3 separate regions of the Homo sapiens genome follow, and all the other regions are linked to region 1. The links come from fine-mapping of genetic effects on gene expression. A gene starts in region 1. Each other region holds a variant in brackets. All regions are shown on one strand. Distances are between the middles of the regions.

The links.
Region 2: its variant is fine-mapped to the expression of ZMAT3 in whole blood (TOPMed, PIP 0.91).
Region 3: its variant is fine-mapped to the expression of ZMAT3 in neutrophils (CEDAR, PIP 0.95).

The regions. Positions count from the first base shown.
Region 1 is chr3:179,068,490-179,076,690 of GRCh38, reverse strand. ZMAT3 (zinc finger matrin-type 3) reads left to right here and starts at 4,882. Exons shown (of 6, transcript NM_022470.4): 1 at 4,882-5,096. RefSeq lists silencers at 4,456-4,865, 5,006-5,155.
Region 2 is chr3:179,035,758-179,043,958 of GRCh38, reverse strand. All of the region lies in intron 2 of ZMAT3 (zinc finger matrin-type 3), which reads left to right. Among named protein-coding and RNA genes, the nearest start is that of ZMAT3, 32 kb to the left of the region's middle. The variant C/T (reference allele first, on the strand shown) is at 3,573.
Region 3 is chr3:179,007,113-179,015,313 of GRCh38, reverse strand. No RefSeq gene overlaps it. Among named protein-coding and RNA genes, the nearest start is that of ZMAT3, 61 kb to the left of the region's middle. The variant A/TTA (reference allele first, on the strand shown) is at 3,794.

The DNA.
Region 1 (8,201 bases):
CCCTTCTCCCATTTTCTAGTAGCAGAACCTATAAATATTGTGTCTTGTATAGTCTACTCAGGAACACACTCTCAGTTAGCTCTGAGGTCTGTGTTTCCAGGGTTATTAGTCCTCAAACTTGGCCCAGAAACTAACTTTAATTTTCTTTAAGCTACAGTGCCTGTTATATAACCATTCCATCCACAAGTCCTGTCAAAACTCCCCTCTTACCCATTGCACGAATCCACTCTTAGAAGCGCAAAGCTCCTCTCAGTTTCAGTTACTGTTCTCAAATTGGCTCTCTGAACTTTCCAGTGAGTCCCATCAGCTACAGCTGTCCCTCAGTATGTGGGGGATTGGTTTCAGGACCCTCCAGACCCAGCATACCCAAATCTGCAGCTGCCTTGATATAAAATGTCATAGTATTTGTATATAACATATGTATATCCTCCAGTAAACTTTAAATCATCTCTAGATTGCTATAATAGCTAATACAAAGTAAATGCTCTGTAGATCATTGTTATATTATTTTCAAATTTTTTAAAAAATATTTTTGATCCATAGTTGTGGTTGCAGAACCCAGTGGATATGGAGAGCTGAGAGCACCTTGGTTTTCTTCTGTCAGTTGCCCTGTTGTTTCTCTCTACTTTCTCCTGTTGATGCCACACAGGTCTCGTAGCTATTGGTGGTTTGTCCCCACTCCCTCCTATATTTTGTTATAGTTGGCTATAGGCCTTTGGTTTTGCTATCTATTTTGTGCGCCCCCCCTTTTGTTTTCAGAATACACATTCTTCTCAAGGTCCATTTTTAAAATTAGGGGAATTCAGGGAAAAAAAATTTGCGACTGCTGTTGCCATGTTTCCACTATTTCTTCATATTTTATTTTTAGGCTAAAAAATGTTAGAATATTATTAAAATGCACGAGAGCCTATTTTGCTGGATTTGAGATTTTTGTATTGCTTTACTCTGATTGTAAGGAAGGATTGTGTTGAAAAGCCGAGGTTATTATGAGAGACAATGAATGTTGGAGGCATTCTCTGATGATTTAAAGAAAGAAGTCGGTCTGGAAGACATTATGTGTTATGAAAGAAAAGGTATGTGGAGTCTCAAAGGATGACACAAACTCCCATACAAGAGAGGATCTGACCTGACGAATTGTATCAGTCCCTGGAGAGGGATGTGTGTTTTTCTCCTGATTGTGAGTACATCATGTAGCTTTCTGGACAGATTCCCAAAACCTAAAGCCATGCCACCAAAAGTTAAGTGTGTTAGGACCATCTCCTTGGTAAATAAATACAAATGTAGATTTTCTCAATATACGGTCTAGCATAATGAAAAATAATTATCCTTATTTTAATATGAGAGTTCCTTTCTGATAAATTCAGAGAGTTTCCCACATAATAGTTACATTAAAAAAGGAAACATTGCAGTGAAGTACATAGGCAGGCACTATAATGCCTATTACAGAATGCAGAAAATAAATTCCTCATTCATTCATACATTTATGCAATCAACTATGGTCATCCAAATGTACTGGTTATACTATATCAGGTCATGAAAGTCAGTGTATAAAAACGTTGCTTTTAAAAAAGTAATTAAAATTAGTCTCAATGTTGAGATCCTGTTCTTTTTCAAGAGAGAAACAAATTAGTCAATTCTACATGTATTTCTATTACCCACAAATCTCTCCTGTCTCCAAGTCATTTCTGGCTAATATCTATTCACTTCAAAATGATCTGCTTCCCCTTATTTTTCTGAGGATAACCCTAAAATTTGGGGTGGGGTTGGGTGAAGTGGGGAGGCAGGTGGCAAGAGGAAGTAGACATCAGTGCAAACACGCCTTGGCTTTGACCTCAATAGGCGATGTCTATTTTTTCTCTGCTATCAGATCAGTGCTCTGTTCATTCAGTTCTATCCTTCCCCTTTCCGACCTGTAGGCTCATCAGCCCCCTACAGCTGTCAGCTCCCTTGAATAGTCTCTAATGCCATAAATACTAAAAAAAAAAAAAAAAAAAGTTTAGGGGCATTCCTCTGGCTGAAACAGTTCAGGCTAACATCCTACTCTCTTTTGACTTATTGAGGCAAAACCCTAGACCTTGATTGCTTTTCTGATCCCCACTGGGAATAGAGCTCAGATGCCCCCAATCTCTAGATCTTCACACATGTGGGAATTGTATTATTTCTAGCTCCACAGTTTCTTTCAAAGGAATCCCAACGACTGGGTGTGTGTGGCTGGTGGGTGGGTGGGGATTTATAGGCCTTTCTTTGGGACATACACCAATATCTCTGGGGAGAGAAAATTGGTTCCCCCATCTTTGTGGCAGATTGCATTATTGTTTACAATTAACCACACAACCCCCACTCCAAAAAAATTACAATCCATGCCCATTGCCATGTGATTTGCCTATGAAAGAAGTAGACTTCTCCACTTACTTGGGGTTTGGCCATATGAAAGACCTTGGCCAATGGGATTTGAGTAGACATGTCATGAGACATTAGAGAAGCAGCTTTAAGAGGCTTCACAAGTTTCTAACAGCTTTCTGGCTCTTCCCATCTCCCTTGAGAATTGCCAAGTTCTACATAGGGGCAGCTTCTTCAGCTTGGGCACTGGATTGAGGAGACCCATGGAGCAGAACCTCAGCTGACCCAGCATGTAATACAAATAAGAAATAAACCTTTGTGGCCATCAGCCATTTTTTTTTTTTTCAACCGCAAAAGTGATGAATATATTGTTTGTGGCTTTTTTTCCTTTCACCTCATGTGCTGAAACTCATGAAGTCCAGCCAATTCTAAACTACAAACTCTGACTTATGAGACTACTGTCACTGCCATGAGCTTCAAATATCTATTACACAAGCATCAGATTTGCCTTTTCTTTCTCCCCGAGGCAGGGAAGGAAATGCCCTAGCTGTCTGAGAAGAGTATGTGAGCAGAGAACATGGAATTGTTCAGATTTTCATCCTGATGGACAAGAACACATCAAACTATCAAACATAAAACTTGAAAACTCCAAGACATTTATCCTTCCTGGACTCAAGGTATTTACAGGGCAGAGGAAATATCTCTTAAGTAATTATAATGTGGGACAACAAATAGTGTGTCATCAAGGTGTGCGGAGAAAAGTGCTGTGGGACCTCATGAAAGAAGAGGCCTGGAAGGACAGGTAGGATTTGACAATTCAAGGGGAGGGGAGAGAAAGCATTTTGTATTCAAGATGCAGACAGAGCTAAATTACAGAGGCAGGAAATGAAGGGGCATGGATGGGGGTGTGAGTGAAATGATGAGGGGAGACTGGTGGAAGGTCAGATCGGAAAGGCTCCGCAAGGCCTACTTGTGGTCCTAGATAAGGAGTGTGGACTGTGAAGTTCTAAGACTGGCTAAAGACCATATAGAAAAGGGGCTGGAGAGTGGATTTTAGCAGCATTTATTATTTTAGAAACAATATAGCCCTTTAAAATAGTGACACATAAAGTAAATGTACCTATACAGCTGGAAAAACAATTCAGGTGATGGATTACTCTCCCCAAATGGCTGGTGTACACTGTGTGTATATGTTTGTACTTCATATTCATTGTACTTATGAAGTCTTTTATGGTTTGTTGTTGTTGGTATTGGATTGGTGCATTTTTCAGCCAAAGAAACAGCCTTGATTTCCTGCAGTTGTTTCCCTACTAATAGGGCACATCTTACTATACTTAGATCTCCTTGGCATTTTAATTCGTGTTTTAAAAAATAACCACACAATAATGCAAATGTACTTAATGCCACTGAACTGTACTTTTTTTTTTTTTTTTTTTGAGACGGAGTCTCGCTCTGTCACCCAGGCTGGAGTGCAGCGGCGCGATCTCGGCTCACTGCAAGCTCCGCCTCCCGGGTTCACGCCATTCTCCTGCCTCAGCCTCCCGAGTAGCTGGGACTACAGGCGCCCACCACCACGCCTGGCTAATATTTTTGTATTTTTAGTAGAGATTGGGTTTCACCGTGTTAGCCAGGATGGTCTCGATCTCCTGACCCCGTGATCCACCCGCCTCGGCCTCCCAAAGTGTTGGGATTACAGGCGTGAGCCACCGCGCCCGGCCTGTACTCTTAAAGTAGTATATTTGTTATCGTTTGCCACACACAAAAATAATACCCCAGCAGATCTTCATACGAGTTAATTTACGCTATAAGTTTAGAGCCGGAATTTCCTCAGCTCATCACTCAGTGTTAACATTGAAGATGTCCAGGTTGGTTATGAAGGATGTGACATCCTAGCGTTGGCCACTCTTTTCCTGGTCCTTCCTGTCTTGCAGGTGAGCCTCTGGGGGTCAGGAGAAAGTCTCCTCTATCTCCTGCTCACTTTCGTGTAGGGGAGGGAAGGTGTGTGTGTGGGTGGGTGGGGGCGTTTTGTGTGAGGGAGGCCGATACTGGGCAGGCAGCCACGCTCTTCTTCCTCCATCCTGGGGCGGAAGTGGGGAGAGCAGCAGTTTAAAGGTTCTGTTGCAGCAGTTTAAAGGATCCACTCAGCCGCCTTAACCGCCAACCAGCAGGCTAAGGGAGGAACAGAATGAACAATGTTTGGATCCCAATGACTGGAGATGAAAGTTGCAAAAGCTCTGCCCAGGCTTCTACCAAGGATTAACTTTCCAGGGCATCTGCTGAACTGCTCTTCGGGGCTGTCTGCTGAGATTGGCGGCGGGACCCTCCCGCCTCTCACTCGTGCCTTTGTTCCCCACGCCGGCCTAACCCCGCGCCCCTGCGCTCGCGGCCAGGGCACCTGACCCACGCGCCGCCCGCCGGGGATGCGGGAGCCGCCACTGCTACCGCTGCCACCGCTGCCGGGCCTGCTCCGCCAAGCACATGCGCAGTGGCGACGCCGAGCCGGCGCCCTCAGTCTCCTCCTCCACCGCCTCCCGGTTCCGCAGTCACTTCCTGCAGCTGTTTCCCTGTGGGTCGGGTTGGACTGACTTTTGACAGTCAGCCTTCGGCTGCGGAGGGGGCTCGGCGGCGGCCGGCGGAGAAAGTTGCTCCGAGAAGAGGCTGGGTCGAGCTGGGCCGAGCCGGGCGCGCAGGGCGGGCGTCGCGGGCGTCCCGGGCGGACGCGGCGCGGAGACTGCCGGCGCGTCCCGGGGGTTCCGGTAAGTGCGGGCGATTGGGAGCCGCGGAGCTTTCAGGACGAGCCCCTGGAGCGCCGGGGACTAGCGGTTCCTTTCCGATGCTCTTTCCATCTGCCCTCCACGTGACAGGGCTTGCGCTGCTTCTATTTATCAGTTTGCTTGTTTCAGGCATTTCACGTGGACCAGGTGGATCATCTGTGCGTGCAGCTGCCTTGGCCCTCTCAGTTGCCCCCGCCCCGTGGGAGTCGGGGGATTCCATCCTTCGTGATGGCATCCATACCGGGTTGAGGTGCGTGTGTGGGTTCGTGTGTATGCATGCACATCTTAGGAATGTAAGGTGGATGTGGGCGACGCTGAACTGTCTGTAGCTTTGATTCAAATCTGTAAACAGTTCTCTAGGATTAGGAACCGTCACAGCGGAGACTGAAAAACATTCGCCAATTCACCAAGGCCTCTTCCCCAGTTTTCTGCGTTCTTTTGAGCCTTCTTTATAGGATACACCTTGCCTCAAGTGATTATTATTATTATTTTTTTTAACTTTTCTCCCTCTCATTCCTTCTTGCTGCGTTCTGATGACCTCTGAGTAATGCTCGCTGCCTTTCCCTCATTTCCAGAATTCCCAATTACAGACTTACCTAGTTTGCTGAGGTGCTCCTAACCTGTTCCTTTATTCTATTCTCTTTCCTCTGTAGATTTCTCCAAATGAGACAAGAGATTGTCTTTAACACAGTATGTGAAGAGTAGGCCCCAGTCCAATCATTAAAACTAAGTATGCTATGACAATTAATTTTCTTTAAACAGGGTACCTTGTGAAGCTTTGATTTTCTTTAATGTCGTCTTAGCTCCTTTCCAAACCAGGACATTAACCAGCATAAATCCTTCATTTATGCCATCGCAAGCATCAAAGTGACTGGTTTTTAAGATTTGAAGAATATTTATGCCAGTCTTCAAATTAGTCCCTTTTAAACCAATGCAACAGTTGAACAGATCTGAGTTGCATGTTTTGGGTCTCTGTATTCCATCATTCATGCATTCACTGAAGACTTGGTTTTATTCATTTTAAGATTTATATTTTATACTAATTTTTGTTTGCAAATGTACTAATATTTGATGCAATTGTCATACATAGATTTTTTTGAGGAGTCGACATTGTGTTGATTGTTAAATATAACAAGAAATAAATTTGGGATATCAAGCTACTCTTTAAAAATTGTAAAGATCAAATGTGATAATGGGTAAATCTGTGTTTGGCAAGAATTTTTTCTTTAAATCAGGTAACTGTCACCTCTGGTAGGAGGCCTTTTGTGCCTCTGTTCTTTGAGAAGGATCTTTATTTTGAGGGAAACCTGTAGATAACACTGGGGGAGACACATGCTAGAATTTCCTCAAGTGAAAGTGAGCTTTCATAAAACAAGTCCAGACATGCCTAGGCAATTGGTAGCATTTGATTTTCTGTTTATATTGCTGATTTCCTTTATCCAGAGGTTTTGACACCCCCCCCCACCTTTTCACTAATGAACTAGCAGAATGTTTGTGGCAATTTGACATCAGTAGCTTTTCAACATTATGAATTATTATTATTAGGTAGTTAAACTTTTTAAAAGCTGTTCTTTGTCTACTTAGTTCCGTTTTCTAAAATGACCATATCTGTCTTTGCTTTCTGGACTATCTTTGCTTGATTCAATTAAGAGAAATAATACCATTACAGAGAACCTGACTTTTTAAATGTTAAAACTCTATATTGCTTTTCTTTTATGTTCCCAGAGATATGGGCAGTACACTTCTGCTTAAAAATTAAATAATATTATCATTTTTCTAAATTTTGTGATTAATGAGAAGTATTGTTAAATTCTATGACTAATACTTATGCACTTTGTCCTTAACTACATTATTTTCCCATCACGCTGATTTCCTTTGTTGCCTCCCCACCCCAAATTTCGTCTGAAAGTTGTTACTTGATTTTCAGGTGCTGTGTAGTTATCAAATATGGTAAAATAGACTTTAACTTTTCAAAATTTACTTGATTCATTTTAGTAATTCTATTATTGCCATAATGTACACATTTCCATTGCAGATGGAAAATTTCAGCAGCTTAAAATAGCCATATTCTATTGACCAAGAGAAGAGGTTTTAATAATACTGTATTGAGAGAGTGGAGGGAATTGTGGATTTTGAAATAAGGATTCTAATTTGGGTTAATTAGAATCTTGGGAACTCAAAGGGTGTACTGTGGTTCATTTTGAGACACTCAGGGTTAGACGGCGCCATCTGGGGGGGAGGCAGGAGACATTATGGATAAAGATTGAAGAGGGAGAGGAACATTTTGGGTCTTTTCTGAGGGAATTATAATAGAGACTATCAGTTATTTGTTAAGAAGGAGGAGGGAAATAGCCTCAAGATTGAGGAACTGGAATTATACTGTGGCTTATGGTGGTGTGATCCATTACTCCATTGGACATTTCCTTGATACCTTATTTTGTGTAGGTAATTTACCTAGAGAAGGAGGAAAAATTTGGGTTTTACAGGGGCTGATGAATATAATCTAAGGCTGTATGAGGCAGGGCTGTAAACTCAAGAGCTCACAGAGAACAGGCAAGTAACAAGTACAGGCAGCAGCTGAGTGGGGACTGAGGTGTCCCAGAGAAGGCAGGCCTCGCTAGAGGGCACAGTGCCTCTGAGCACTAACTAGCTAATTGCGTCCCATATAGGAATGTGGGCCAAGTGATGCCAGATCATCCTTTTTCAAGAGAAGCCATGAATCTCTTGATTTTTAAATGCTAACAACTAATTCGACTTAAAAAAATGAAAACAAAACTGTATATTCCAAACAGCACATCTGTGGCTGTATGTGGCCCACAGGCTGTTTGCCACCTCTGCTATACATTTGCTCAACTACTTAAATATTGCTAGTTGATCAGAAGGAACATATTTTATTTATTTCTGTCATACTTTAGGCTACTCCTAGAGTTCCCTGAAATTTTAGCTAGTTCTATAAGTGCTTTAAGAATTCTGCAAGATGATATTCTTTTATACACTCTTTTTGATATTGGTTGGTTGGAAGATATGTTTGCTAAGATTTTTAGCTGGTGGTCTTTTTTTTTTTTGAGTCACAGTCTTGCTCTGTCA
Region 2 (8,201 bases), 33 kb after region 1:
GCTGCATAGATGTCATCTTTTGAGAAGTGTCTGTTCATATCCTCATATCCTTTGCCCACTTTTTGATGGGGTTCTTTGTTTTTTTCTTGTAAATTTGAGTTCTTTGTAGATTCTGGATATTAGCCCTTTGTCAGATGGGGAGATCGCAAAAATTTTCTCCCATTCTGTAGGTTGCCTGTTCACTCTGATGGTAGTTTCTTTTGCTGTGCAGAAGCTCTTTAGTTTAATTAGGTCCCATTTGTCTATTTTGGCTTTTGTTGCCATTGCTTTTGGTGTTTTAGTTGTGAAGTCTGTGCCCATGCCTATGTGCTGAATGGTATTGCCTAGGTTTTCTTCTAGGATTTTTATGGTTTTAGGTCTAACATTTAAGTCTTTAATCCATCTTGAATTAATTTTTGTATAAGGAGTAAGGAAGGGATCCAGTTTCAGCTTTCTACATATGGCTAGCCAGTTTTCCCAGCACCATTTATTAAATAGGGAATCCTTTCCCCATTTCTTGTTTTTGTCAGGTTTGTCAAAGATCAGATGGTTGTAGATGTGTGGTGTTATTTCTGAGGCCTGTTCTTTTCCATTGGTCTATATGTCTGTTTTGGTACCAGTACCATGCTGTTTTGGTTACTGTAGGCTTGTAGTATAGTTTGAAGTCAGGTAGCATGATGCCTCCAGCTTTGTTCTTTTGGCTTAGGATTGTCTTGGCAATGCGGGCTCTTTTTTTGGTTCCATATGAACTTTAAAGTAGTTTTTTCCAATTCTGTGAAGAAAGTCATTGGTAGCTTGATGGGGATGGCATTTAATCTATAAATTACCTTGGGCAGTATGGCTATTTTCACGATATTGATTCTTCCTGTTCATGAGCATGGAATGTTCTTCCATTTGTTTGTGTCCTCTTTTATTTCCTTAAGCAGTGGTTTGTAGCTCTCTTTGAAGAGGTCCTTCACATCCCTTGTAAGTTGGATTCCTAGGTATTTTATTGTTTTCGTAGCAATTGTGAATGGGAGTTCACTGATGATTTGGCTCTCTGTTTGTCTGTTATTGGTGTATAGGAGTGCTTGTGATTTTTGCACATTGATTTTGTATCTGAGACTTTGCTGATGTTGCTTATCAGCTTAAGGAGATTTTGGGCTGAGACAATGGGGTTTTCTAAATATACAATCATGTCATCTGCAAGCAGGGACAATTTGACTTCCTCTTCTCCTAATTGAATACCCTTTATTTCTTTCTCTTGCCTGATTGCCCTGGCCAGAACTTCCAACACTATGTTGAATAGGAGTGGTGAGAGAGGGCATCCTTGTCTTGTGCCAGTTTTCAAAGAGAATGCTTCCAGTTTTTGCCCATTCAGTGTGATATTGGCTGTGGGTTTGTCATAAATAGCTCTTATTATTTTGAGATACGTTCCATCAATACCTAATTTATTGAGAGTTTTTGGCATGAAGGCTGTTGAGTTTTGTCAAAGGCCTTTTCTGCCTCTATTGAGATAATCATGTGGTTTTTGTCATTGGTTCTGTTTATGTGATGGATTATGTTTTTTGATTTGTGTATGTTGAACCAGCCTTGCATCCCAGGGATGAAGCTGACCTGATCATGGTGGATAAGCTTTTTGATACGCTGCTGGATTCGGTTTGCCAGTATTTTATTGAGGATTTTCGCATCCATGTTTATCAGGGATATTGGTCTAAAGTTCTCTGGTTTTTGTTGTATCTCTTCCAGGCTTTGGTGTCGGGATGATGTTGGCCTCATAAAATGAGTTCCCTCTTTTTATTGATTGGAATAGTTTCAGAAGGAATGGTACCAGCTCCTCTTTGTACCTCTGGTAGAATTCGGCTGTGAATCTGTCTGGCCCTGGACTTTTTTTGATTGGTAGGCTATTAATTATTGCCTCAATTTCAGAGCCTGTTACTGGTCTATTCAGAGATTCAACTTCTTCCTGGATTAGTCTTGGGAGGGTGTATGTGCCCAGGAGTTTATCCATTTCTTCTAGATTTTCTAGTTCGTTTGCGTAGAGGTGTTTATAGTATTCACTGATGGTAGTTTGTATTTCTGTGGGATCGGTGGTGACATCCCCTTTATCATTTTTTTATTGCATCTATTTGATTCTTCTCTCTTTTCTTCTTTATTAGTCTTGCTAGTGGTCTCTCAATTTTGTTGATCTTTTAAAAAAAACAGCTCCTGGATTCAGTGATTTTTTGAAGGGATTTTTGTGTGTCTGTCTCTTTCAGTTCTGCTCTGATCTTAGTTATTTCTTGCCTTCTGCTAGCCTTTGAATTTGTTTGCTCTTACTTCTCTAGTTCTTTTAATTGTAATGTTAGGGTGTCAATTTTAGATCTTTCCTGCTTTCTCTTGTGGGCATTTAGTGCTATAAATTTCCCTCTACCACACTGCTTTAAATGTGTCCCAGAGACTCTGGTACGTTGAGTTTTTGTTCTCATTTGTTTCAAAGAACATCTTTATTTCTGCCTTCATTTCGTTATTTACCCAGTAGTCATTCAGGAGCAAGTTGTTCAGTTTCCATGTAGTTGTGCAGTTTTGAGTGAGTTTCTTAATCCTGAGTTCTAATTTGATTGCACTGTGGTCTGAGATGCAGTTTGTTGTGATTTCTGTTCTTTTACATTTGCTGAGGAATACTTTACTTCCAATTATGTGGTCAATTTTAGAATAAGTGTGATGTGGTGCTGAGAAGAATGTATATTATGTTGATTTGGGGTGGAGAGTTCTGTAGATACCTATTAGGTCTGCTTGGTGCAGAGCTGAGTTCAAGTCCTGTATATGCTTGTTAACCTTGTGTCTCATTAATCTGTCTAATATTGACAGTGGGATGTTAAAGTCTCCTATTATTATTGTGTGGGAGTCTAAGTCTCTTTGTGGGTCTCTGAGGACTTGCTTTATGAATCTGGGTGCTCCTGTATTGGGTGCATATATATTTAGGATAGTTAGCTCTTCTCATTGAATTGATCCCTTTACCATTATGTAATGCCCTTCTTTGTCTCTTTTGATCTTTGTTGATTTAAAGTCTGTTTTATCGGAGAGTAGGATTGTTACCCCTGCTTTTTTTTTTTTTTTGCTTTCCATTTGCTTGGTAGATCTTCCTCCATCCCTTTATTTTGAGCCTCTGTGTGTCTTTGCACATGAGATGGGTCTCCTGAATACAGCACACTGATGGGTTGTGACTCTTTATCCAATTTGCCAGTCTGTGTCTTTTAATTGGGGCATTTAGCTCATTTACATTTAAGGTTAGTATTGTTATGTGTGAATTTGATCCTGTCATGATGTTTGCTGGTTGTTTTGCCCATTAATTGATGCAGTTTTTTCATAGCATCGATGGTCTTTATAATTTGGCAGTTTTTGCAGTGGTTGTTACCGGTTGTTTCTATGTTTAGTGCTTCCTTCAGGAACTCTTGTAAGGCAGGCCTGGTGGTGACAAAATCTCTCAGCATTTGCTTGTCTGTAAAGGATTTCATTTCTCCTTCACTTATGAAGCTTAGTTTGGCTGGATATGAAATTCTGGGTTGAAAATTCTTTTCTTTAAGGAAGTTGAATATCGGCCCCCACTCTTTTCTGGCTTGTAGGGTTTCTGC[C/T]GAGAGATCCGCTGTTAGTCTGATGGGTTTCCCTTTGTGGGTAACTCGACCTTTCTCTCTGGCTGCCCTTAACATTTTTTCCTTCATTTCAACCGTGGTGAATGTGACAATTACATGTCTTGGGGTTGCTCTTCCCAAGGAGTATCTTTGTGGCATTCCCTGTATTTCCTGAATTTGAATGTTGGCCTGCCTTGCTAGGTTGGGGAAGTTCTCCTGGATAATATCCTGAAGAGTGTTTTCCAACTTGGTTCCATTCTCCCTATCACTTTCAGGTACACCAATCAAACGTAGATTTGGTCTTTTCACATAGTCCCATATTTCTTGGAGGCTTTGTTCATTTCTTTTTACTCTTTTTTTCTAACCATGTCTTCTTGCTTTATTTCATTAATTAATTTGATCTTCAATCACTGATACCCTTTCTTCCACTAGATCGAATTGGCTATTGAAGCTTGTGCATGTGTCACGAAGTTCCCATGCCATGGTTTTCAGCTCCATCAGTCATTTAAGGTCTTCTCTACAGTGTTTATTCTAGTTAGCCATTCGTCTAACCTTTTTTCAAGGTTTTTAGCTTCCTTGCGATGGGTTCGAACATGCTCCTTTAGCTTGGAGAAGTTTGTTATTACTGACCTTCTGAAGTCTACTTCTGTCACCTCGTCAGAGTCATTCTTTGTCCAGCTTTGTTCCATTGCTGGTGAGGAACTATGATCCTTTGGAGAGGAGGCACTCTGATTTTTAGAATTTTCAGCTTTTCTGCTCTGGTTTCTCCCCATCTTTTTGGTTTTATCTACCTTTGGTCTTTGATGTTGGTGACCTACAGATGGGGTTTTGGTGTAGACGTTCTTTTTGTTGATGTTGATGCTATTCCTTTCTGTTTGTTAGTTTTCCTTCTAATAGGTCCCTCAGCTGCAGGTCTGTTGGAGTTTGCTGGAGGTCCACTCCAGACCCGGTTTGCCTGGGTATCACCAGCGGAGGCTGCAGAACAGCAAATATTGCAGAACAGCAAATATTGCTGCCTGATCCTTCCTCCGGAATCTGCATCCCAGAGGGGCACCCATCTATATGAGGTGACTGTTGGCCCTTACTGGGACGTGTCTCCCAGTTAGGCTACATGGAGGTCAAGGAGCCACTTGAAGAGGCAGTCTGTCCATTCTCAGAGCTCAAACACCATGTTGGGAGAACCACTGCTCTCTTCAGAGCTGTCAGAAAGGGACATTGAACTTTGCAGAAGTTGTCTGCTGCCTTTTGTTCAGCTAAGCCCTGCCCACTGAGGTGGAGTCTGGAGGCAGTAGGCCTTGTTGAGCTGTGGTGGGCTCTGCCCAGTTCGAGCTTCCCAGCCACTTTGTTTACCTACTCAAGCCTCAGCAATGGCTGAGGCCCCTCCCCCAGCCAGGCTGCTGCCTTGCAGTTTGATCTCAGACTGCTGCGCTAGCAGTGAGTGAGGCTCTGTGGACGTGGGACCTGCCAAGCCAGGCACGGGAGAGTATCTCCTTGTTTTCCGGTTGCTAAGACCTTGGGAAAAGCGCAGTATTTGGGCAGAAGTGTCCTGTTTTTCCAGGTGCAGTCCGTCACGGCTTCTCTTGGCTAGGAAAGGGAAATCCCCTGACCTCTTGGCTTCCCGGTTGAGGTAACACCCCACCCTGCTTCAGTTCGTCCTCTGTGGGCTGCACCCACTGTACAACCAGTCCCAGTGAGGTGAACCAGGTACCTCAGTTCAAAATGCGGATATCACCCGTCTGCTGCATTGATCACGCTGGGAGCTGCAGACCAGAGCTGTTCCTATTTGGCCATCTTGTATTTTATTTTATTTTTTGAGACAGGGTCTCGCTCTGTCACCCAGCTGGAGTGTAGCATTGCAGTCATGGCTCACTGCAACCTCAACCTTCTGGGTTTAACTGATCCTTCCATCTCAGTGCTCCCAGCAGCTGGGACCATAGGTTTGCACCACCATGCCTGCCTCATTTTTCTTTTTTTAGAGATGGGGTTTTGTCATTTTGCCCAGTTTGGTCTCAAAGTCTTAGACTCAAGTGATCCTTCTGCCTCAGCCTCCCAAAGTGCTGGGATTATAGGCATGAGCCACTGTGCCTGGCCCTAGTTCCATGGTTTTAAATTCCACCTACATACTGATAACTCCTCAGATTCTATCTCTAACCTGACCTCGTTCGTAAACTCCAGGTTGGTCTCTCTTTGGACATCTGAAAGGGATCTCAGACTTAACACAGCAAGTGGGTCTCTTGATGCCCAGCTCTTCCCCCTTTCTCTACATTGCATGGCTGGAGCCATCTCATGCTTCAGCTTTTAGCTGACATGTATCTCCCCAGAAAAGCCTTGTCGGCCCACCCCACTCTCTCCCTGTCCATTATCTATTATATCATCCTGTTTTATTTTTTGCAGAGCAGTTGTCAGTAACTCTTTTTTCTTTGGTTGTGTGTGTGTACATATATATATGTACATGTATATATTCTGTTTATGTCCCCTAGAAAAGCTTCTTGAGGGCAGAGACTTTGCCTTTGTTCACTGTTTTATCTCCTTTTCTTAGAATGGTTGCCAGAACATAGAGGGTAGTCAGTAACTATTTAACCCTGTTATCTTCCGCCAGAGTTGTAGATTCAAATTCTCACCTGTTTTTAGAAGACTTCTAAACCTTCTTAGCCTTGACTTCCTTAGTGCTAATGTTGCAGCTTTTGTAGTTCAGCAAGCGGGAGGAAATGGCACACTGGCTTTTTTTCCCCGTTGCTCAGTGAGCAGGAGGGAGGGTTGCAGTGTAAGGATTCCTTTGGTGCTGCTTCACCAGCCGGAAATCTCTGTGGGTGCTGTGTCCTCTGCCTGGGGCCTCATTCCACCGAGCTCACTCCGCCCACTCAGCCTGGCAGGCTGTGCTCGGCTTGTGCCTTGGCCTGGATCCTGCGCCCGCTGAGGGATCTGCACTCAGCCCATGGCTCCACTGGGTGTGTTGCCAGCAGCTTCTGCATTGGGTGTCGTTGTCTAGATGAGGGGAATGTGGGTGGTGCCCGAAAACTCAGAGATGTCAGTAATGGCAGAGTCCCAAGGGGTGTTACAGCTCTCATCCGGGGAGTCCCAAGATTTGACCTCCCAAGAAATGTTGCAGCTTTGTATTGTTCCTGCCACCTGCAGCTTGGCGAACAGGGGCATGTTACAGCTCAGTCGGTCCCACCACCCGCAGCTCAGTGAATGGGTGTGTGTTACAGGTTGGCCTATTCTGGGTTCTTCTCCTGCGACCAAGAGGAATAAGAGGAATAAGGTACATGGACACTGGAGAGTGAATAGGGTGGAGAAGAATTTCATTGAGCAATAGAAGGAAAGCTCTCAGCAGAGAGGGGGCCCAAGAGTGATTAGCCCTGTGTGTGAGAGGGGACCCAAAAGAGGTTTGCCATCTGTGGGGTTGAGTCTGGGATTTTTATGGGCTCAGAATGGGGGAGTGCGTGCTGATTGGTTCACGGGTCGGCTTGGAAAAAGCACCATTTGATTGCCTAAAAGGCATCGAGGAAGTTCTCACTCTCGTTGTGGACTCCACCTGCAACTGGCAGCTCAGTTTTCAGTCTTTAAACTGTCTTTGGCATGAGGTTGGGTTTCACAGGGACCCATCCCTGTCTGCCTAGGAATTTGTCTGTCTCCAGTTGCTGTCACTAAGCCACACATTGCACTGTCTCTTGGATTCATTAAGATGTCTTTCGGTTGTCTCAATCTCATATTGAGATTGAGATTGTTGACTCTATCTTCTTCCCCAAAGCCTTTTTTCCTCCCCACACCTTTAAAAATTTTTCATAAATATTTCCATCTACCCTGCGGTTCACCTCCCTTCTACCCTCTTATCCAATATGCTATTACTTGTTCTTACCTTCTTCATAGTTCCTGCGTCTTTCTCCTTTATCTAGCCATTATCTTGCTTGAGGCCCATTTTGCAAGCTGTTATCTGTCTCCACTCTGTCTAGGTGATAGTTTTTGGCTCCATAGCTTTAAATACCATCCACATTCAGATCATTCCTGAGAGTCTGTCTTCATCCTGACCACACTCTTGAACTCCAGTTTGGTTGTGGGCTTCTATGATAACATACTATCTGATTTTTATCTTACTTTTTGGCTAGACCTTGTCAATCTCATTTTCTGGATCTTCATTCTCTACTAGACTCTATGTTGTAGTGTCTAGGATTTTGTCCTTGACTCTCCTCTGTGTATCTTCCCAGCTTCCAGCTTTGGTCTGCTACCCTGATGCTCATCTTTATCAAATACAATCAAGTCATGCACTGCTTTGCTTAAAGTTCCTCAGAGGCTCCCTGCTGCCTCTGAAGTCCAAGTTCTTTATCATGGGCAAAGGCATTAAGAATGAGCCCCCTGTGTATTTCAATTTTTGCCTCTCCTCCAAAGGATCTAGAAGACCGTTATCTCTCCTTGTAGCCCCTCAACACAGAAGGCTGGGCTTTTGCTCATGCTATTTTCTTGGTGCACAGTTTTCTTTTTCCGTATTGCTTACCTCCCCTGTAAACATTTGCTCATTTAAAAAGATGAGTCAGTTGCCCCCTTTTCAGGGAAGTCTTCCGTGATACATTCAGGCAGGAGTAAGAAATTCCTTCTCTGTGTTCTCCTAGCAGTTTATTATCTTCATTATAATAC
Region 3 (8,201 bases), 61 kb after region 1:
TAGAAAAATCTTTCATCAAAGAAGACTTGAAAATTTAAAAACACAATTATATACAAGGGCAAATGTTACCAAACATGGAAATCTTGCTGACATAAAAATTAAACTATAAAATATTAAAATTTTCCCAAACATAGTTTATTTTTGGGGAAAACAATATTTTCTGCTTTAATAAGCTAGCAATGAAGAAAGAGACTTTTTTAAAAAAGTAGTTTTATTAAATATTTCAAACATTCAGAAAAAGTACATACTGGGTAACTGGTCTCAGTTCTGTCACCAGTGTGTTCCCTGGCTTGTCACTTGACCTCTTGAAATTCAGATCCCCATAACTGGGGTATTAGGGGTGGATCTAGTTATTTCTTCTTTATTCCTCTCTTTCAGTACTATGGATAATTTAGAAGATTGCTGTTTTCAAAAAGAATTGTTTTTTTTTTTCGAAATACATAAGTCCTGAACTCACTCCTGAACTCCATGCTGCCATGTCCCCCCTGCCCAGCGGCAATTGATCGCGGTTAGCAGTTTCTTGAGTCTTTTCCAGATAAAGTCTATGTAACGTGAATGGAGGCATTCCATCCCTACTGTTCTGTTCATCACCTTGGGGTATGTGTGTGTGTGTGTATGTGTGTGTGTGTGTGTGTGACCTTGGCAAGCATTCCATACCAGCACATGTGGATCTATTTCATTGTTTTTCATTCTGTGGTGTTTCCTTGTATGATTTCTAAAATTTCTGTTATTGATCCTCTATTGATGGACATTTATGTAATAATAATTTAAAAAAATTAAACCCTTAAAAATAGCAAAACATATAAAATTTACCATTTTAACCATTTAGTTTACAATCATAATCACTCTCCATCTCCAGAAATTTTTTATCTTCCCAAACGGAAATTTTACTCATTAAACAATAACTCCACATTCTCTCTTCCCCAGTCCCTGGTAACCACCATTCTACTTTCTGTCTCTATGATTTTGACTACTTGAGGTACCTCATATAAGTGGAATCATATGACAATTGTCCTTTTGTGTCTGGCGTATTTCACTTGGCATAATGTCCTCAAGGTTCATCCATGTCGTAGTATGTATCAGAATTTCCTTCATTTTTAAAAATTATTTTTAATTAGGGATATATAATATTGTACGTATTTATGGGGTACATGTGTCATTTTGATACAAACATTCAATGTGTAATGATCAAATCAGGGTAATTGGGGTATCTTATCACCTCAAGCATTTATCAACTTTCCTTCCTTTTTAAGGCTGAATAATATCCCATTGCATGTATCGATGACATTTTGTTTATTCATCCACTGATGGACACTTACGTTGCTTCTACCTTTTAGCTATTGTGAATAATGCTACTGTGACCATAGGTGTACATAGCTGAAGACTTGGAAAATTATAAATTATTTTATATATGCAAAGTGTATAAAAGTTTAATTTTTTTCACTGAAGCTTTGATAATTTGAGTCTGTAAAACAAACTGACCATGGATTAACAGGAAAAAAGGCATACAGATTTATTAATGTACATATGGGCATGGGAGTCATACAAAATATGAAAAACTCAAATGTCCAGACAGCTGATGCTGTAAACCAAAAAGTATCTGAGACAGATCTCAATCAACTGAGAGTTATTTTGCCAAGGTTGATGATACACCCAGGAAAAAAAGCCACTAGCCACAATAGAATCTGTGGCCCACACTTTTTTTCCAAAGAGGATTTTGAGTGCTTCCATATTTAAAGGGGAAAACATGGGCAGGAGAGAAAAGAAGTGTAGATGAAAGAGGCAAGAAGTTGCAATCTTTTGAAGATTTCATCAGCGTTCAGTGGATCCACATTTTACATGTGAAAGGAGAGGGTAGAGGCATTTGTCTCATGCTCAGTGAATCTACGTTTTTACATAAGATAAGTAAACAGAATAGAGGAAGCAGTCAAATATGCATTTGTCTCAGGTGAGCAGAGGTATGACTTCTGGTTCTATCCTTTGTCCCGTTCTTCTGAAGATAAATTGTTTGTTATTGTCAGGGTGAAATTCAACAGAACTGTTTTAGGGTAAGGATCTTGAGGGCCCACAAAAAATTTGCTCGTGAGCAAATTGCGAGGGAGGTATGTAGGTAGTCTTTCATCTTTGTAGCTGTTGAGGAACAAAATGGGAGGCAGTTTTGTGTGACTCAGTTCTCAAGCTTGACTTTTTCCCTTAGGTATGGTGAATAGGGGGTCCCAAAATTTTATTTTCCATTCACAACTCTTTAATACTATCTTGAGGTTACAGAAAGAATAGGGGCTTGAAGCTTGTCAAGACAGGTTATGGTGGCATGAGAGGTTATGGGAAGGAGAGAAGAGGCAAGGTGTGCTGCAAAGGTGGTCTTGTTATGCAGATGATCTCACAGGTAGCAGCCCTCAGAAAGGAAAAATGGGAGGCCAGGTACGGTGGCTCATGCCTGTAATCCCAGCACTTTGGGAGACCAAGGCAAGTGGATCACCTGAGGTCAGGAGTTCGAGACCAGCCTGGACAACATGGTGAAACCCCGTCTCTACTAAAAATACAAAATTAGCTGGGTGTGGTAGCGGGTGCTTATAGTCCCAGCTACTTGGGAGGCTGAGGCAGGAGAATAGCTTGAACCCGGGAGGCGGAGGTTGCAGTGAGCTGAGAGCACACCACTGCACTCTAGCCTGGGCGACAGAGCAAGACTCCATCTCAAAAAAAAAAAAAAAAAAAAAAAAGAGATGGGAGCCTGTGGTAGATGTTTCTATAAAACCTTTAAAGGTGTCAGGCTCTCAGTTAATCTTGCCTTGTTCTGGACAAGGTGGGGCTTCAGAAAAAGCCTGTTTGCATCTGTTGTTTACTTCACTTTATTTCCTCTAGAGATGCAAATCCCCGTAAAAGACTCAGCTTTGCAGGCTGATTCTTGTGTTGCAGGCCCTCTGAATAGTCATCTCAAAATATGTCAAAGAAGTATATTTTGGAGTGAAACATTTCTTAGTTTCCTTTAGTCCCCCACTTGAAACTTTAGAACGTTTCGCTTATTAATGTTTGGGCGCAGTGGCTCATGCCTGTAATCTCAACACTTCAGGAGGCTGAGGTGGGTGGATCGCTTGAGCCCAGGAGTTTGAGATCAGCCTGGGAAATATGGCAAAAGCCCATCTCTACAGAAAAAAAAAAAATAATTAGCTAGCCATGGTGGCACGTGCCTGTAGTCCCAGCTATTCAGGAGGCTGAGGTGGGAGGATCACTTGAGCCTTGAGGGGGAGGTTGGAGGATCACTTGAGCCTTGAGGGGGAGGTTGCAGTGACCTGAGGTTGTGCCACTCTATCCTGAGTGACAGAGAGAGACCCTGTCTCAAAAAAAAAAAAAAAACACAGAAGTGTCACTTATTAAAGTAGGATTGGTAGCTATGGAGAGATTTGGGTTAGAAGTTTTGAGATAAGAGGGAGCAAAACAAATTGGGATAAGCAGAAAAGAACAAATATAAGTATGTCATGCCATATCTTCTTGAATCCGTCTCTTAGTTGTGATACTACATCAGTTAAACTGTTGTTTCCCATTGCAACAGGTGGCATTGCAGATGGGCTCTCAAAGTTAGGCCAAACATCTTTGATAAGAGACATTTCTATGAAAACAGAGAAAAATAACGTTAACATTTGGAACAGCCTATAAATTAGTTTCTTTAGAGTCTGGAGGGCAGTCAGTTGAGAAGATGGCCAGATTTGGGTTAGAAACATCTTCAGTTGAAACAGACAGGCAGTGGCAATCTGGCAGATTTTCCTGGGTTGTAGTTTTTTTTTTTTTTTTTTTT[A/TTA]GTTTTTGTGGGTACATAGGTGTATACATGGGGTACATGAGATATTTTGGTACAGGCATGCAATGCATAATAATCACATCATGGAAAATTGGGTATCCATCCCCTCAAGCATTCGTCCTTTGTATTACAAACAATCCAATTATACTCTTTTAGTTATTTTAAAACGTACAGGTAAATTATTATTAACTATAGTCAACCTGGTATGCTATCAAATACTAGGTCTTATTCACTCTTTCTAACTACTTTTTTGTACCCATTAACCATCCCCACTTCCTCCCCTCCCCTCACTACCCTTCCCAGCCTCTGGTAACCATCAGTCTACACTCTATCTCCATGAGTTCAATTGTTTTGATTTTTAGATCTCATAAATAAGTGAGAACATGCATTTATCTTTCTGTGCCTGGCTTATTTCACTTAATATATTGACCTCCAATTCCATCCTTTGTTGTTGCAAATAATAGAATCTCATTCTTTTTTGTGGCTGCAGAGTACTCCATTATGTATAGGTATCACATTTTCTTTATGCATTCATCTATTGATGGACACTTAGGGTGCTTCCAAATTTTGGCTATGGTGAACAGTGCTACAACAAATATGGGAGTACAGATATCTCCTTGATATACTGATTTCCTTTCTTTTGGGTATATGCCCAGCAATGGGATTGCTGGATTGCATGGTAGCTGAATTTTTAGTTTTTTGAGGAATCTCAAAACTTCTTCAAAGTGGTTTTACTAATTTACTTTCCCACCAACAGGGTATGAGCGTTTCCTTTTCTCCAAATCCTCACTGGCATTTGTTATTGCCTGTCTTTTCTATATAAGCCATTTTAACTGGGGTAAGATGATATCTCACTGTAGTTTTGATTTGCATTTCTCTGATAATCAATGATATTGAACACCTTTTCATATGCCTGTTTGTCATTTGTGTTTCTTCTTTTGAGAAATGTTTGTTCAAATCTCTTGCTTATTTTAAATCAGATTATTAGATTTTTTTCCTGTAGAGTTGTTTGAGCTCCTTATATATTCTGGTTATTAATCTTTTGTCAGATGGGTAGTTTGTAAATATTTGCTCTCATTCTGTGGGTTGTCTCTTCACTTTATTGCTTGTTGCCTTTTCTGTACAGAAGCTTTTAAACTTGATGCGATCCTCTTTATCCATTTTTGCTTTGATTGCCTGTGCTTGTGAGGTATTACTCAAAATTTTGCCCAGAACAATGTCCTGGAGAATTTCCCCAGTGTTTTATTGTAGTAAATTCATAGTTTGAGGTCTTAGATTTAAGTCTTTAATCCGGTTTCGTTTGATTTTTATATAACACAAGAGATATAGATAAAATTTGTTCTTCTGCATATGGTTATCCAGTTTTCCCAGCACAATTTATTGAAGAGACTGTCTTTTCTGTAATGTACACTTTTGGCACCTTTGTTGAAAATGTATTCACTGTAGGTGTATGGATTTGTTTCTGGGTTTTCTATTCTGTTCCATTGGTCTATGTGTCTGTTCTTGTGCCAGTACCATGTTGTTTTGGTTACCATAGCTCTGTAGTATAATTTGAAATTAGCTAGTGTGATTCCTACAGTTTTGTTCTTTGCACTCAGGATAGCTTTGGCTAGTCTGGGTCTTTTATGGTTTCATAAACATTTTAGGATTGTTTTTTCTATTTCTGTGAAGAATGTCATTGGTATGTGAATAGGGATTACATTAAATCTGTAGATTGCTTTGGGTAGTGTGGACATTTTAACAATATTGATTCTTCCAATCCATGAACATGGGATTTCTTTCCATTTCTTGGTGTCCAATTTATTTCATCAGTGTTTTATAGTTTTCATTATAGAGATCTTTCACTTCCTTGGTTAATTCCTAAGTATTTAATTTTACGTTTGGCTATCATAAATGGGATTACTTTTTAAATTTCTTTTTCAGATTGTTCACTGTTGGCATATAGAAATGTTACTGATTTTTGTATGTTCATTTTATGTCCTGCAACTTTACTGAATTTATTTATCAGTTCTAATAGTGTTTTGGTTGCGTCTTTAAGTTTTTCCAAATGTAAGATCATATCATTTGCAAACAAGGATAATTTCACTTCTTCCATTTCAATTTGATACCCTTTATTTTTTTCTCATATCCGATCATTCTAGCTAAGACTTTCAGTACTATGTTGAATAACAGTGGTAAAAGTGGGCATTCTTGTTGTGTTCCTGCTCTTAGAGGAAAGGCTTTCATTTCGTTTTTTTATCTGTTCAGTATGATACTATCTGTGGGTCTGTTATATGTAGCTTTTATTATGTTGAGGTGTATTTCTCCTATTCCCAGTTTTTTTGTGAGTTTTTATCATGAAAGAATGTTGAACTTTGTCAAATGCTTGCTCAGCCTCAGTTGAAATAATCATATAGTTTTTGTCTTTCATTCTGATGATATGCTGTATCACATTGATTGATTTTTATATGTTGAGTCATTCTTGCATCCCTGGAATAAATCTCACTTGGTTATGATGAATTATCTTTTTAATATATTGTTGAATTAGGTTTGCTAGTATTTTGTTGAATATTTTTGCATTAATATTTATCAGAGATATTAGCCTGTAGTTTTCTTTTTTTGATGAATTTTGCCTGGTTTTGACATCAGGGAATACTGGCTTTGTAGAATGAATTTGAAAGTATTCCCTCCTCTATAATAGTTTCAGTGGAATTGGTATCAGTTCTCCTTTAAACATTTGGTAGAATTCAGCAGTGAAGCCATTGGATCCTGGGCTTCCCTTACTGGGAGATTTTTTTATTTTTTTTTTTTGGTCTGTTTGGGTTTGGGATTTCTTCATGGTTTAATTTTTATAGGTTGTATGTGTCTAGCGTTTTGCCAGTTTCTTCCATATTTTCCAATTCATTGCCATATAGTTACTCAAACTAGCCACTAATTATCCTTTGCTTTCTGAGGTATCAGTTGTAATATCACCTTTTTCATCTCTGATTTTATTTATTTGAGTCTTCTCTCTTTTATTCTTAGCCTGGCTAAAGGTTTGTCAATTTTGTTTAACTTTTCAAAAAGCCAAATTTTTGCTTCAAAGATCTTTTGTATTGTTTTCTTCACTTCAATTTCATTTATTTCTGCTCTGATCTTTATTATTTCTTCTACTAATTTTGGATTTGGTGTGCTCTTGCTTTTTTAGTTCTTTAAGATTCATTGTTATGTTGTTTATTTGAATTTTTCTACCTTTTTGATGTTTCTGGCTATAAATTTCTCTTTTTGTACCACTTTTGCTGTGTCCCATAGCTTTTGGTATGTTGTGTTTCCATTATCATTTTGTTTCAAGAAAGTTTTCAACTTCCTTCTTAATTTCTTCATTGATCCACTGGTTATTCAGGATCATATTGTTTAATTTCCATGCATTTGTATAGTTTCCAGAATTCCTCCTGTCACTGATTTGTAGTTTTATCCCATTGTTTTTAGAGAAGATGCTTGATATTATTTCAGTTTTTTTGAATGTTTTATGACTTTTTTTGTGACCTAACATATAGTTTATTTTTGAGAATGATCCATGTGCTGAGAAAAAGAATGTGTATTCTGCAGCCATTTGATGACATGTTCCATAAATATCTATTAGATCCATTTGTTTTATGGGGCAGATTAAGTCATATGTTTCCTTGTTGATTTTCTGTACCATGCTAAAAATGGGGCATTGACATCTCCGGCTATTATTGTATTGGAGTCTATCTCTCTTTAGCTCTAATAATATTTGCTTTATATATCTGGGTGCTCCAGTGTTTTGTGCATGTATATTTACTATTGTTATGTCCTCTTGCTGAATTGACCCCTTTACCATTATTATATAATGATCTTCTTTGTTTCTTCCTACAGTTTTTGTCTTATAATCTATTTTGTCTGAAATAAGTGTGACTACTCCTGCTCATTTTTGGTTTCCAATGGCATGGAACAGATTTTTTCATCCCTTTATTTTTCTGTCTATGTGTGTCTTTATAGGTAAAACGTGGTTTTTTTTTTTTTTTTTTTTGTAGGTGACAGATCAATGGGTCTTTCTTTTTTTTAGTTCATTCAACCACTCTGTGTGTTTTGATTGGGGAGTTTAGTCCATTTAATTTACTGTTATTATTGATAAGTAAGGACTCACTCCTGCCAGTTTGTTATTTGTTTTCTGGTCTTCTCTTCCTATTTTCTTTTCTTCTTGTCTTCCTTTTATTGAAGGTGATTTTCTCTGGTGATATTATTTAGTTTCTTGCTTTTTAGTTTCTGTATCTGTTGTATGTTTTTTTGTTTGAGGTTACCGTGAGGCTTGCAAATATTATCTTATAACCCATTATTTTAAGCTGATAAAAATTTAACACTCTTTTCATAAAGAAACAAACCAATGAGCAAAAAGAAAACTGATAAAAATTCTGCACTTTAACTTTGTTTC